Linked DNA regions of Homo sapiens: region 2 is linked to region 1. A link means that fine-mapping ties the variant in region 1 to the expression of a gene that starts in the linked region. Tissue or cell type: gastroesophageal junction. Region 1 holds a variant in brackets; the other region holds the start of a gene. All regions are shown on one strand. Distances are from middle to middle.

Region 1 (8,000 bases):
TCGAGTAGCTGGGATTACAGGCACGCACCACCACACCTGACTAATTTTTTTATTTTTAGTAGAGACGGGGTTTCACCATGTTGGCCAAGCTGGTCTCGAACTCCTGATCTCAAGCTATCCACCCGCCTTGGCCTCCTAAAGTGCTAAGATTACAGACGTGAGCCACCACACCCAGCTCTCTTTATTCTTGATGTTCTAAAATTTTACCTTTTTATTTCTAGGTATAGGATGTTTTCCAGTATTTTTTAACATTTCCAATCTAGACACAAGCTTGTTATTTCTTTGAGAGTTCTTGCCCCACCCTCTTTTCCTGTGGAGTTCCTATTAGATTTGTTTGTATTTCTGGTTCTCTCCCCAATGTCTCAACAATTTTTCATATACTCCTTCTCTGTTAGCCCACTGTCATAGAATACCTGACTTGATCTTTAGCTCACTGAATTTTTCTTCAGCTTGACCAGTTCTCCTGAGGTTAAGTTTTTGTTTGTCTTTAACAGCTTTATTGAGGTATAATTAACATACAATAAACTGCACATATTTGAAGTTTTGGTATACACTCATGTATATGTGTGTGCATATGCTGTATTCATGAAACTGTCACTGTAATCAAGATAATGAACATTTATCACCCCAAACATTCCCTCTTGGCACTTTGTAACCCATCTCTGTTCTTACCTTCCCAGGCTCCAAGCAAAAATCTGCTTTTTGACAGTCTGTATTAAATACAGCCATGCCTTCTGAGAAATGTGCTTAGCTGTGTTCATTGATTTCATTGTTGTGCAGACATTATAAAGTGGACTTACACAAATCTAGATGGCATAGCCCTCTAGACATATAGGCCATATGGTATAGACTGTTGCTCCTAGCTGCAAACTTGTACAACATGTTACTGGATGAATACTGTTAGCAATTGTAACACAATGGTAAGTATTTGTCTGTAAACATATCTCAACATAGAAAAGGTACAGTAAAAATACCATGTAAACATAAAAAATGGTATACCTGTATAGGGCACTGACCTTGAATGGAGCTTGCAGGACTACAGTTGCAGTGAGTGAGTGGTGAGTGAATGTGAAGGCCTAGAACATTACTGTACCCTACTGTAGACTTTATAAACACTGTACACTTAGGCTACACTAAATTTATTAAAATTTTTTTTACTTCAGTAATAACCTTAGCTTACTGTAACTTTTTACAATTTTTTTTTTTAATTGAGATGGGGTCTTGCTATGTTGCCCAGGCTGGTCTCGAACTCCTGGCTTCAAGCAATCTTCCCATCTCAGCCTCCCAAAGCTATGGGATTGCAGGTGTGAGCCTTCATACCCAGCGACTTTATATACTTTTAATAACACTTAGCTTTTAAAGCACAAACACATTGTACAGCTGCATAAAAATATTTTCTTTATATCCTTATTCTATAACATTTTTTCTATTTAAAAGTTTTAACTTTTTAAACTTTTTTGTTAAAAACTAAGACACAAACATGCACATTAGCCTAGACCTACACAGAGTCAGAATCATCAGTATCACCGTCTTCCACCTTCATCTCTTGCCCCACTGGAAGGTCTTCAGGGGCAGCAACACGCATGGGGCTGTCCTCTGTGATGACAATGCCTTCTTCTGGATACCTCCTGAAGGATTGCCTGAGGCTTTTTACAGTTAACTTTGTAAGTAGAAGGAGTACACTATAAAATAACAACAAAAAGTATAGCATAGTAAATATATAAACCCATAGCAGTTTATTATCATTATTAAGTATTATGCATTGTACACAGTTGTTGCATACTAGACTTTTATGTGACTGGTAGGTTTGTTTATACCAGCATTGCTACAGACACGTGAGTAATGCATTGTGTTGCGACATCACTAGGCCATAGGAATTTTTCAGCTTTATTATGATCTTAATGGGACTATTGTTGTGTATGCAGTCTGTCACTGACTGAAATGTTACGTGGTGTATGTCTGTATGTGGAATCATGCTTTATGTTTTTTTTGGGGGGAGGGTCTCATAGGAGATGACAGCTCCTGTGCATGTTATTGTCTCTTTTTTCTTTCTTTTCTTTTTTTTTTTTTTTTTTAAGATGGACTCTTACCCTGTTGCCCGGGCTGGAGTGCAGTGGCGTGATCTCAGCTCGCTGCAACCTCTGCCTCCCGTGTTCAAGCAATTCTCCTGCCTCAGCCTCCCGAGTAGCTAGGATTACAGGTGCCCGCTACCATGCCTGGCTAATTTTTTGTATTTTTAGTAGAGACTGGGTTTCACCACGTTGGCCAGGCTGGTCTCTAACTCCTGACCTCAGGTGATGCACCTGCCTCAGCCTCTCAAAGTACTGGGATTACAAGCGTGAGCCACTGCGTCCCGCCTCTTTTTTCTTTAGCATAATTATTTTGAGATCCATCTGTGTTTCCATGTGTATCCACAGTTCTTATTGCTGAATAGTATTGCATTGTATGGATATAGCCAAATTTATTAATTCAACTGTTGGTGGATATTTGGGTTGTTTGCAGTTTTCAGTGATTATAAATAAAGTGTCTGAACATTCACATTTCCCTACTGTGTGAACATGGGCTTTTATTTTTCTTGGGTAAATATCTAGAAGTAGATTGGCTGGATCTTTTGGTAGGTGTGCATGTTGCTAACTTTTCAAAAAATTGTCAAACTTTTCTTTTTCTTTTTAAAAACAACAACAGCAACAAAAAACATTCCCACCAGCAGGATGTGAGAGTTTCAGTTGCTCCACTTCTGGGTCATTACATGGTACGGTCAGTCTTTAAAATTTCTAGCATTCTGGTGGGTATGTAGTGGAGCTCATTATAGTTTTGATTTCTCTTCCCTGGTGACTAATGATTTGGAACACACTTTTTATGGGCTTATTTTTGCAATCCTTACATCTTGGTGAAGTTTCGGTTCAGATCTTTTGCCTGCTTCAAAAAATGTGTCTTGGACTGGGTGCGGTGGCTCACACTTCTAACCCCAGCACTTTGGGAGGCCAGGGTGGGAGGATCACTTGA[G/A]TCCAGGAGTTTGAGAGCAGCCTGGACAACAGAGCAAAATCCCCTTCTCGGCTGGGGATGATGGTTCACGCCTGTAATTCTAGTACTTTGGGAGGCCGAGGCAGGAGGATCACTTGAAGTCAGGAATTCAAGAACAGCCTGGCCAATATGGTGAAACCCCATCTCTAGTAAAATTACAAAAAAAAAAAATTTTCTTAAGAAGACCCCCTTCTGTACAAAAAAAATTTTTTTTAATTAGCTGGGCACGGTGGTATGTGCCTGTAGTCCTAGCTACTGGGGAGGCTGGGGCAGGAGGATTGCTTGAGCCCAGGAGTTTGAGGCTGCAGGGAGCTATGATTGATTGTGCCACTGCACTCCAGCTTGGGCAGCAGAACGAGACCCTGTCTCTAAAATAAAATAAGTAATATGTTTTGTTGTAAAAGTTCTTCATATATTCTAGATAGGAGTGAGTCATTTATTTTATGTTTTGCAAATATTTTTTCCCAGTCTTTGGTTTGCTTTTTCATTTTCATAACTGTCTGGGTTCTTCTTCAGTTTTGATTCTTCTTCAGTTAAGCTTTTCTACTAAGTTTTTTATTTCAATAATCAGAATATGATATCTAATTTTTAAAAATTATCCTTCACCTTCTACTGTTTTAATTATGCTTATTTTTCTTTGTTCTATTTGCTGATACAGCCCAGTGTTTTCAGGCATTGCTGTCTTTGTTGAGTTTGGTACTTTTCTTTATGGATTAGTTTTATTTTGAATGTGTGATAATTATTGGTTTTGTGCTCCTCTTCTGTGTGTTTAGACTTTCCTATTACAACATTCAGGGATGGAGGTAGCCTGTATAGCCAAGAGCAGCCTGGGTGTGGAGGCTGTCTGCTCCTGTAACCTTTCACCAACCCATTCAGAACATGGCCCACTTTTCCAGCCCAAGCTCCCTGTTCCCACTTCAAGCAGATGCTGCTGCTACTGTTGCTAGTTGCTTGGCACCAGGGGCTCATGCATACTGAGAGAAGCAAAGCTGTGCTCACCTGACTGCTCCTGCTGTGGTACTCCATCTCATCACCTAGTCTTTGACCCAGAGCTCCCTCCTCCTCTCCATCTTTGGTGAGCCAACTACCTTATTTCTGGGTGGCCTTCTCTGATGTCCCTTTTCTTCCTCTTCCTGCTAGAGAGGATTCTTTTTGTTTTTTTTCCTAGCATCCAGTATCTATAATTCATTGTTTACATATTTGTCATTTGTAATAACTGAACTCTTGTAGAGAAGCAGCAGATATTATTCACATGTGAATTTCTATCACCCTGAGTAACACAGAATACTTGAATGAGACATTTTTATTTAGAGAATGGGAGTTTTAATAGAAAAGACAATAGAGCTTGAGACTCCCTGGGAGAGCAGGCCAGACATGGAGAGATACTGGTCTATTTCTTTTACTGGTAGGTTAATCTTAGGCAGGTTATTTAATCTTGTTTAATCTTTTATATTACAATAATTTTAATTATATAAAATGTGAGAGTGTGTGTATACATACATATATGTGCATACATTTTATTAAAACAGTACATGTTCATCGGGTTTTTGTTTTTGTTTTTTGTTTTATTTTGAGACAGAGTCTCACTCTGACACCCAGGCTGGAGTGCAATGGCACAATCTTGGCTCACTGCAACCTCTGCCTCCTAGGCTGAAGCGATTCTCCCACCTCAGCCTCCTAAGTAGCTAGGATTACAGGTACATGCTACCATGCCCAGCTAATTTTTGTAATTTTAGTAGAGACTGGTTTTCACCATGTTGGCCAGGCTGGTCTCGAACTCCTGACCTCAGGTGATCTGCCTGCCTCGGCCTCTCAAAGTGCTGGGATTATAGGCATGAGCCACTGTGCCTGGCCAACAAATAGTTTTTTAAACAGTAGTGGGACAACTGGATCTTTCCATGCAGAACAATGTAGGTGGACCCCTACCTCAAACCATATACAAAAATTAACTCAAAATGGATCAAAGACCCAAACTTAAGAGCTAATTTATAAAATTCTTAGAAGTAAACATAGATGCAAGTCTTTATGACCTTGGATTAGTCAGTGTTATTTTAGATATGCCACCAAAAGCACAAGCAACCAAAGAAAAAATAGATAAGTGGTTCTTCATCAAAATTAATAACTTTTTTGCTTAAATAACATTATTAGGAAAGTAAAAGGATAACTTGTGGAATGGGAGAAAATAATTGCACATTATATATTTGGTAAGGGGCTTGTATCTATATATAAATAACTTCTAGAACTTAATAAAAAAGGCAGATAACCAAATCTAAAAATGAGAAAATGATCTGAATAGACAGTTCTCTGTAGAAAATATACAGATAACCAATGAGTTTATGAAAAAATGCCCAGCATCATTAGCCATTAGGGAAAATGCAAATTAAACCCACAAAGAGATACTACATTGTATCCACTAGGATAGCTGTATGAAAACACAGTAAAAGAAGTGTTAATGAGGTTGAGGAGGAATTGGATCCCTGCTGTAGGAGTGTAAAATGGTGAAACTGCTTTGGAAGACAGTCTACCAGTTACTCAAAAGGCTAGAGTTACCATATGACCTAGCAGTTTGACTCCCAGGTATATACCCAAGAGAAATGAAACCATTTATTTATACAAAAACTTGTGCATGAATGTTTATAACATTATTCATAATGGCCAAAAGATATAAACAACTCACATGCACATCATCTGATTAATGAATCAATAAAATATTGTATATCCATATACAGTGGGATATTATTCAGCCATAAAAAGGAATGGAGTACTGATATATGCTGTAGCATAAATGAACCTTGAAAACACCTTACATGGAAGAAGCCAGTGACAAAAGCCATGTATTACATGATTCCATTTCTAGGAAATGTCTAGAAAATAGATCTATAGAGACAAAGTAGACTAGTGATTGCCAGGAACTGGGTGCAGGGAGGGAGAGGAATGGGAATGGGTATGGAGTTTTGGGAGGAGGTGTTGAAAATATTTTAAAATTTATTGTGGTGATGCTTATACAACTCTGAATATAAAATGTAAACTTCACACTTTACATATGTGAATGGTATGCGAATAATATTGTTAAAAATCAGTATTGTTTTTAAAAATTCAAATATACAAAAGATTATAAACTTGCACCTGTTCATATAATGGATTTTTTAGAAATTATACATGTCTCTGCTTTAAAATGTTTTAAACTATAAACAGAATGCTAGTTTATTTACCAAATGGAAATGGTTGCTAGTCATCAGTATTTTCTGAGAGGCCCAATCTTTCTAGCATCTAGGTCCCTGAAGATAGCTAGAAAGTGTGCAGAGGTTGAGAGTAAGATCACAGGGTCTAGTCATGTGTTGAGGGGGCATATTTCCAGGCCCTCATGAAGCCCAGTGACTTTTCCCTGTGTCCAGATTATGTGTGCTGGTGTTGCATAATAAAGAATTTGTTGGCTGGATGCAGTGGCTCACGCCTGTAATCCCAGCACTTTGGAAGGCTGAGGCAGGCAGATCACCTGAGGTCAGGAGTTCGAGACCAGCCTGATGAACATGGAGAAACCCCGTCTCTACTAAAAATACAAAATTAGCCAGGTGTGGTGACACATGCCTGTAATCCCAGCTACTCAGGAGGCTGAGGCAGGAGAATCACTTGAACCCAGGAGGCAGAGGTTGTGGTGAGCTGAGATCACACCATTGCACTCCAGCCTAGGCAACAAGAGAGAAACTCCATCTCCAAAAAAAAGTGTCAGTTGAGTGTGGTGGCACACAACTGTAGTCCCAACTTCTCAGGAAGCTGAGACAGGAGAATCACTTGAGCCGAGGATTTTGAGGATGCAGTGAGCTTTGATTGCACCGCTGTACTCCAGCCTGGGTGACAGAGAAAGACCCTGTCTCAAAAAAAAAATTTTTTTTTTGTTTGATGTTTTTTCCAGGTTCCTGGCACAGAGCTTCTAAAGACCCTGGAATTTGAGTAGTAGGAGTGTCTTTATTATGCTAATGAAGTGACTGGCAGTGGGTCCCTAGATAGCTTCAAGATGGAGCATGGTCCCCCAGAAAGACCAAACCAAGTCCCTACATGGTTGGGACTTTGAGCTAGCCAGACCTCCAAGGAGGGCAGGAAAGAGGGCTGGAGACTGAGCTATATTGTGTGGCCTGTGGTTTAGTCAATCATACCTACATAATGAAACCCCAGTAAAAACTCTGGACACTGAAGTTCAGTGGAGCTGCCAGGTTAGGAAACACATGTGCTGGGAGGGAGATAGCCCTGATTCCTCAAGGAGAGGACACAGAAACTGCCTTGCCTCCCAGACCCCATTCTACATGTATCCTTTATAATAAAACTGAAATCCTAATTTGAGCACTTACTTTCCTGAGCTCTGTGAGTCATTCTAGTGAACAAACTTGAGGGTGCAGTGGAAACCTCCTGTATTAGTTACTAGTTGGTCAGAAGTGTGGGTAGTGGGAGGACCTCTGCAGCAGCATTTCTATGGAGGACTGAGCCCGTAGCATGGGGTAGTTGGTGCCAGAATTGAATTGTACGCCCAGTGTGGTTGAGGCAGAAGAGCTGGACAGGGCCCGTTTCTCCTTCCCCTGGATGACATGGTGGTTCCTAAGTCTTGCCAGGTTTCTTGCCTGTCTGGTTGTTTTCTTGTTTTTGTTTTTTTGAGAAGGGGTCTCTCTCTGTCACCCAGGTCGGAGTGCAGTGGCACAGTCTCGGCTCACTGCAGCCTCTGCCTCCTGGGTTCAAGCAATTCTCCCATCTCAGCCTCTCAAGTAGCTGGAATTACAGGAGTGCACCACCACGCCTGGCTATTTTTTGCATTTTTAGTAGAGACAGGGTTTCATCATATTGGCCAGGCTAGTCTCGAACTCCTGACCTCAGGTGATCTGCCCGCCTTGGCCTCCCAAAGTGCTGGGATTACAGGCGTGAGCCACTGCACCTGGCCCATGTTAGTTTCTTTAGTTGGGTAATAAGGAAATTTCTTGAAAGATTTT
Region 2 (8,133 bases), 990 kb after region 1:
TTAGGGTGACTTATGCCTCACCCCAACCCTATTGTTCTTCCAAGCCTGCTTAGAAGACCAGTCACTACTTTCCAAAGGATTATATATACCTTAGCTGTCAAATCACATTTAACTCATACCCACGTCCCCGTATTTGAGAATTAGGGGATTTTATGCAGATGCCTTTTAGGTTATAGTCCCCAGAATCAACTCCTACAGTAAACTAAGAAACTCTCAACCCCATCATGGATTACAAAATATTCAACTATTTCTTAACACCCAAATTCTCTAATTTAGTCTCTAAGCATACATTTTTGAGAACACATACAGTAAAAGTAAAAAACCTAAGACCTGTTAAGGCCATCAACTCTTGGTGATAAAGCTGAGTCAAGAGTCTTGAGTTCCAGTTACAGCTCCAACAACTACAAAGAACCAGTAGCAGCTTCCCTATTTGCAAAGCAGAAGTACAACTAAGCAGCACAGAGCACCTCTGTCCTCAACATTTTACGTGAGTAAAATTAAGCATAAAATTTTTCTATTAATAGCACAGCACTGTCCACAAGAAAAATTGTGATGACAGAAATACTATATTACATATTGTCCAGTAAGGCAGCCACTATCCACATGTGGCTATTGAGCACTTGAATGTGGCTAGTATGACTAAGAAACTAAATGTTTAACTTAATTTACATTTAAATAGCCAATACAGTGTGTTGGAACAATGCAGCTGTCTAAGAAATTGCTATAAAAATTTTAAAGTACTATAATGTAAGGACACATCTAAATTTCCAATCTGCAGGCTGTACTTTCGCATCAGAAAGTCCAACACGAAGGACTGGAAGTTTGGTGGTAACAACTAGGATTCACCTTTCTTAAAGCAAAAGTTAAAATCAGACATTTCCCATTCTTGCATTGATATGATAGAGTTTAATGAAAACCATTTAGCGGTGAAAGCTACCATGCTGGGACACATCTCCAGTTTGGACGAACAGAATGGGAGGCCAGTGAGTGAAAGCAAGATATTTCCCCCCAGCTACAGGAACTACAGTTTAAGGACCACTCTGAGGCTTTCCCATCTCCAGCGGCCTCTGTGATATTTTAATAAAAGTGATACTGAATCACTCAATGGGAACACTATTCTTGGTTTACTGACTGCAGGAACAGAAAAATGGGCTGGACCAACCAGCGTGGGAAAAACCTTTAATAGATGGCCTTGGACAAGGCCATAGTAGAGCACAGTCCTGTCTGGAATGGCTAAGCAGGGAGACAGAGCCTGGTGCATGTATCCTTCTAGCTGGTGCCACTATATCCTAACCGCAGGCAGAGCTGCTGAGAAAACACTGTGGGCAGAAGACTCCGCATTTCTTCATCTTCTCTGCTACCACCTTGTCTACTCCACCATCTTCCCTCTCCTGGATACCACAACAGCTTCCTAATTGGTCTCTCTGCCTCTACTCTTAACTCCCTACAGTTCATCTTCCACGCAGACACCAGATAAGCTCATTCCTCTGCTTAAGATCTTCCAGTGACTCCTACTCAAAACAAAATTCAAACTCTCCACCGTGGCCTACAGAGTCCTGTTTACCTTCTTCGCTTCTCTTCCCACTGTCCCCTTGCTCATTCCATTCCAGCCACTCCAACCTCCTTAATTTGTTCTTCAGACAAATCAAGCTTCTTCCCACTCAGGCACTGAGTTGAAGCATTTTACACTATCTCATTTTGTCTTCACAGTAATCCTAAGGTTTAAAGGAGGTAGATCCTGGACACACAGTTTATGGCGGTGAAACTGGAATTTGAATCCAGGGAAGTGACTGCTGAGCTCACAGGCTTTCCCTTCACAGGACATCCAGATGGAGCATCCATTTAACTTCCCCACTCCCACACAGGAAATCATGCCTCTCCTGAGGCAAACCGTTCCTTTATCAAGGAAAGCTTTCACTGGACGTGCCCCCCAACCCCAGTCAAAGTGTAAAGTCACATCAACCTGTCCGCAATACTCAGAACACATGGCCAACCATGAATTTCTACTTGGGCACATGACGCCTCTGAGCCATTGATTTTCTAGGGTCGTTTAAAACTTATGGCCATTTAATTACATTTAAAACACAATCACGACATGAAAATCAAGCTGCTTTTATTTTTGTTTCAGAGACTTATTTGACATTTATGTTAATAGTATTTCAAACTTATTTTCTATGACTTCTTTCCTGGCCACATGTGCTATAATAACATAATGAAATCTGTACCAGTTTGTGACATGGTTGGCATTTTACAAGAGGCCGTCAAGGCATGTAAGAGCTGAGTTTTATATTATGGAAGGGGACCTCTCATATCTGCCTGCAAAATGACCTCAGTGGGAATACCTTATTGCAAAGTAGGTTTTACTTTTACATAAAGTTGGGCTTCCCGACTGTCTGATCAAGTCAATTTCTATAATTGTTTCAGGCCTCAGCTTCCCCATCTATAAAATAGGGATGATAATAGATACTTTCTCATACAGTTGTTTTGAGGATTCTGGGTGATTATACTTGCTAACTACTTGGCATGGTAAATGCCTGGCACACAGTAACTGCTAGTTTACACATTCAGTGGGGGCTACTTTTTAAAAAATCTAAGTCCTCCAGTGGCACAATCTGACTGAAAGAAGCTCTCAGTGAACCAACGTATTCAATTACTAAACAACTTCCCAACAACGAAAAAGTGAAGAAGGTAACAGTCAATGCTATGCTGACTGGAAAGATGACTCACTCTAGTTGACTCTAAATCAGTTAAAAAATATATGGCTGTCTCTAAATCCAGCTTATCTTGACTCAGCATAATCTATGTTATTACTAATCAGCATGGACTTTTTATTGGCCCTTGGCTGCTATTTAGATTCCCACCCCCCCATTCTCTATTCTTAGACTGCCTTTAGAGGTGGTTTCAACCCAGGAACATTAAGTGGGCTTTTTTTATTTTTTTTCTTTTTCCTTTCCTAATGAGCATAGAGTAGTCAAAGCACTATCTTTGATCTTCCATTTCCCACTGGGAATTTATGAAGGCACGAGCAACAAAAAACTTATGAAGGTCATTACAACAGGCCTTTGACTGAAAACAGCTTTAATTATGAATCTATAAAACTCAACTGAGTCACACTGGGCTTTCAGAAACACATCTGCTCTGAGAATTTATTCCTTCAAGCATTATCTTGTGCCCTTTGTAATCACTAATGCAGGACACGACTAGATCTATTATATTAATAAAAATCTTCCCAATAGTTGGGGTAAATCCAACATTTCACTATTTCAGGCATTTGCCTCTTACTCAAATCCTAACACCAGAGGAAAAAGGCAGCAGCCTCACACTGTTGCCAACACCCACTTCCAGGAGAATACCTTTTTAAAAAATGCTTACTGTGATTTTCCAAGTACATTTGCTATTTGGAGGGTACACTCCAGGAAAACCTTCACTGCCAATAAATCCAGACTCTCCAGTAAGAATGCCACCACATGTGAAAACAGGTCTGGGAACATAAAAGAAGAAAAGATAATGTAATTTGAAACATGGTCTAACAATCTGATGTTACCTTCAGAAAGGTGTAGCCTATTAATATAAATAAAAGTTAATGTTGATTAATCAATGCTTGCACCATATAAGGGATCTGAAAATTTGCTAGCTCCTAGAATATTTAAATTATAGCCTGACAAAGCATTCAGTCCAGCGCCATCTGTCTCCATCATAATAACACAAGATTATATATATGTATAATCAAGTCCTCGGCATTGTGGCAAAGTCTTGTAGGAAAATGGTAAATACATCAATTTAACTGGGGGAGTGGGAGAGAAGGTAAGAGCCAGGCTGAATGAGAAGCATGGTTTTAAAGAAAGACAGGCAAGCAATTGGTTAATATAAAAAAAGTTTGTCGTTCCCATATTTGGAGAGATGCCCAGTTCTCCTCCCCCTTTCTGAAAATCACTCGCCATTGGCAGAGCTTCCCATCGAAAGGGAGGCTGATGTTGATGGAGGCTGAAGAGGTGATGCCAAAGTTGGCCACCGGGCAGGTCCCACAGCCCAGCTCCTGGGGCCTTCCAGAGGTTGGCGAAGAGTTAACTTTCCGGAGCGGCTCCCTAGGCGCCGCGCCGCTAGGGTTGTTCCCTAGTTTACGTCTCTGGGCAAAGCCTCTCGGGGAAGGAAAAAAAACAGCGGTAAACCAAAATCCACATATTTGGGCCCCAGTGCTTCCCTCTGGCCCCATAGACACGAGGAGAGGGGAGACACAAGTCAGATTAAGCCCCGCCACGTGGTGGCCAAGCCAGCTGCAGGGCCATCCGGCAGGCCGGGCTGGGGACCCAGGAGGGAGCCCCGCGAGCAAGGATGGGTCCCGAAGTCCCGGGCTTAGCCTACCCGAGGGTGGCGGACGCCTGCACCGCGCGGGAGCGCAGGGTCGAGCGCTGGGTCACCCAGGCGCGCCGAAGCGGGTTGAGTAAAGCAGCAGGCGAGGCTGCAGGGGTGGAGGAAGGGAAAGGAGAGAAAGGGAGCCCGGGCAGGGGTCGCGTTACCTCTCTGGGGACTGCTGCCGCGAGAGCTGGGTGGCGGCAGCCAGCAGCAGGCAGAGTGGCGCCCAGGCGTTCGCGCCCCTCATGGCAGCGTAGACGCTCGGGGTTTGCACCCCACGGCGCGCGCGCCGGCACACACGCCCCTCCGCACCCACCGCGCTCACACCGCCGCTCACACTGGCAGCAGCGCTGGCTCACACCGGCGCTCGGCTGCCCGCGCGCTCCCTCTCACGCGCGCACCGCCGCGGGGCGGCCCAGGTAGCCGGGGGATACGCGGCCGGCAGGGCGGAGGCACTTTTAAAGGCGATTATGGTGCCGTCTGACTCGACGCTTAGTTTCCCCTGAGGAGCTGCTCTGGCAGCCACAGGCCACTGCTGAATATCCCGTTTGTTCTCCGGCGGCAGGAGGGGCGGCTCCGAGGCCAGAGCCGCCCCCTCTCGTGGGGCGGGCGAACGTCTCCTCCCGGCACCCCGGGACCGACGGGTCCTCTCTCGTCCAGCCCTCAGGGACCCCGGGGAGAAGAGGAACCCCTTGCGGAGTGGCACCCCAGCGGCCCGGGCCCCGACGCCCAGAGACGATTCTCAGGGAGGGCTTCTGGTTTTGCTTTGGGGAATGTTTTTCCCAGTTGCTTTTAAATAAAAAGTAATAGCGCTTGCTGGCTGCTGGAAAGCCTGGGGGTCCTTCTTTGTCTCCTTCAAAACCCAGATCCAAGGAAAGAAAGGGAAAAGGGATTTTATTGTATTTTAACTTCTGTGCTTATTCTCCTCTCTCTCTCTCTAGATACTTTTCTTTTTTTTACTGGTATGACAATGACAAGGAAGACAGTCTCTGTGCCGGGATTTAAACACGGGTTTTCAGGCGAGCGATTTCTGTGTGAACTGTCATTAAATGTCAGATAATGAAGACGGAACCAAATCAGCAAATCTCACCATCCCATGTCATGTTCTGAAAATGGTGTTTCTCTGCTTGCATCTCTCTGTTCTTAGACCTTTCCAACAGCATCTTTCTGTGGTATTAACGGGTTAAAATTTACGGAGAATTCGTTTTTCTTAGACGAACAATTCTAGCCTTGTGGAATCAATACTCTCTTTTACTTAATTACAGAAATATAATTTTAAACATTTATTTTGTTAAGAGCTTCCCAATAACCAGGGATTAATAAAAGAATGACAGGAACAGACTAGATTCATAGAGATTTTTAATAATCACCAGCTATGGGAGATACAGCTTAACTTTGATGCCTCACGTTGTTCCTTCTAAATTGTTTTCACCTTTCTAAGCAAGAAAATTAAGTATTAAAGTAGTTCTTATCGAGACTTTATTTCTAATAATGAGCTGTTAAGAATCTAAACACGGGTGGGCGCGATGGCCCACGCCTGTAATCCCAGCACTTTTGGAGGCCGAGGCGGGCGGATCACGAGGTCAGGAGTTCGAAACCAGTCTGGCCAAGATGGTGAAACCCCGCCTCGACTAAAAATACAAAAAATTAGCCAGGTGTTGCGGTGTGCGTCTGTAATCCCGGGTACTCGGGAAGCTGAGGCAGAAGTATCGCGTGAACCCGGGAGGCGGAGGTTGCAGTGAGCCGAGATCACGCCATTGCACTCCAGCCCCGGGCGACAGAGTGAGACTCCATCTCAAAAAAGAAAAAAAAAAAAAAAAGAACCTAAACACTCCTGGCAAGGAAGTAAGTAAAACTGGCTACAGGAAATATTCTGACTTTTCATAGTGAGTGCACCCTGAAGCCTATACTAGGAACCAGAATATACGGACAGGACTTAGATTATCTTACCATTTTTTTAAAAAGTGAAGGCAAAAACATCATAAAGTACAACTTTCAAAACTTCTCTACAGGCACCACACCCTTTATGACATTAAAAAAAAGGGTGACAGAATTTGGCAAACTGCTTTATATCCTGAAACACTCTCAACCCAATAAAAATGTCTTTAAAACAGGGAAGAGGAGAATAAATGGTTGTTGATTTTGCACGCATTTCAAGAATATGCTATCTAATAGCATAAGTGTTTTTAGATAATTGTTTATTTGAAAGTCATAGTTTTAAATTATAAAGGGAAATATTGCTCAATTCACTTTCTGGTAATGATTTGCAGTCCTCGTAAACCAGAAAATACTTCATTCAGGACTAAGCTAAGTTTTCAAAATTTAAAATAAATAACAAAGTATTAAATGTGCCTAAATAGGAAACTATTTGAACTAAAATACACAGCCATTTCTTAATTTATAGATTGATGACTGTGTTCATATGCTCACTAAAGAGTTAGGATTTTAACACCAATCATTCTGTTGTTGACACTCATAAGACATTGATTTTACCATGTGATTTTAGAATTTACTAAAACCCATATTATTGGCTCTTAAAAACACATATTTGACTTGGAACTACAGTTCTGACCAAAATTATAAACCTTAAATGTCCTGAGAAGTTGATGTGTTAAAATTGAGAGACTTTTATTAGTTTGTTCTCACGCCGCTATGAAGAAATACCCGAGACTGGGTAATTTATAAAGAAAAGAAGTTTAATTGACTCACAGTTTCACATGGCTGGGGAGTCCTCAGGAAACTTATAATCATGGCAGAAGGCACCTCCTCACAGGGTGATAGGAGAAGGGGAAAAGCCCCTTACAAAACCATCAGCTCTCATGAGCATTCACTCACCACCAGGAGAACAGCATGGGGGAAACCATTCCCACGATTCAATTACCTCCACCTGGTCCCACCCTTGACACCTGGGGATTATTACAATTCAAGGTGAGATTTGGGTGGAGACACAGCCAAACCATATCAAGACTCAAGTGCACTTTGAAGGTATATGTAAGGTCCATCTCTGTGAGACCAGTTTCTGGACTTGTGTGATAACAGAATTAGTATAATGGACAAGGAGCTACCCCCACAGGCAGTAGAAAAGTGGAGAGAGAAAAAGAACAAAAGCCCTGTGGGTAGATTCTTTAAAACAAAAAGTGGAGTGGTGGGTGAACTGATCCTTATTATCCAGCCTCTGCTGTTACCAGGTTGCACAGAGAATCAGCATCATGGGAATATGAAAATATTCACCAATGAACTGACCACTTATAAAATTAGGCCCCACTCAAACATTCCTTGCTACACAATGCTAGTATCTAGCTGGGCCCAATATGTCAACATTGTCAGCTAATCTCTGATTCACTCATCAACCTTGTAAACGTCTGAAAATGTCGTGTAAATCCATTGCACATTTATTCCATAGTGCGGTACTCATCTTGTAAAAAATCCGGAATGTTCATAAGTTAGTTCACACTGGGCACGGTGGCTCAGGCCTGTAATCCCAGCACTTTGGGAGGCAGAGGTGGGCAGGTCACTTGAGCCCAGGAGTTCAAGATCAACCTGGCCAACATGGTGAAACCTTGTCTCTACCAAAAATACAAACGTTAATTGGGCGTGGTGATGGGCGCCTGTAATCCCAGCTACTCGGGAGGCTGAGACACAAGAATCGCTTGAACCCAGGAGGCAGAGGTTGCAGCGAGCCGAGATCACGGCACTGCACTCCACCCTGGGCGACAGAGTGGGATTCCATCTAAAAAAAAAAAAAATTCAGTGTTTTTTGATGTCTGTAAACACACATTA

Evidence for each region. PIP is the estimated chance that this variant, and not a neighbour inherited with it, causes the effect.
Region 2: it holds the start of PCOLCE2, and the variant in region 1 is fine-mapped to the expression of PCOLCE2 in gastroesophageal junction (GTEx, PIP 0.96).

The regions. Positions count from the first base shown.
Region 1 is chr3:141,893,132-141,901,131 of GRCh38, forward strand. All of the region lies in intron 1 of ATP1B3 (ATPase Na+/K+ transporting subunit beta 3), which reads left to right. Among named protein-coding and RNA genes, the nearest start is that of ATP1B3, 20 kb to the left of the region's middle. The variant G/A (reference allele first, on the strand shown) is at 3,007.
Region 2 is chr3:142,884,297-142,892,429 of GRCh38, forward strand. PCOLCE2 (procollagen C-endopeptidase enhancer 2) reads right to left here and starts at 4,787. Exons shown (of 9, transcript NM_013363.4): 1 at 4,518-4,787; 2 at 3,373-3,481. The coding sequence starts at 4,600. It overlaps LOC124909443 (a long non-coding RNA gene), which reads left to right and starts at 3,968. Exons shown (of 2, transcript XR_007096122.1): 1 at 3,968-4,163; 2 at 5,295-6,471. RefSeq lists a silencer at 4,730-4,779.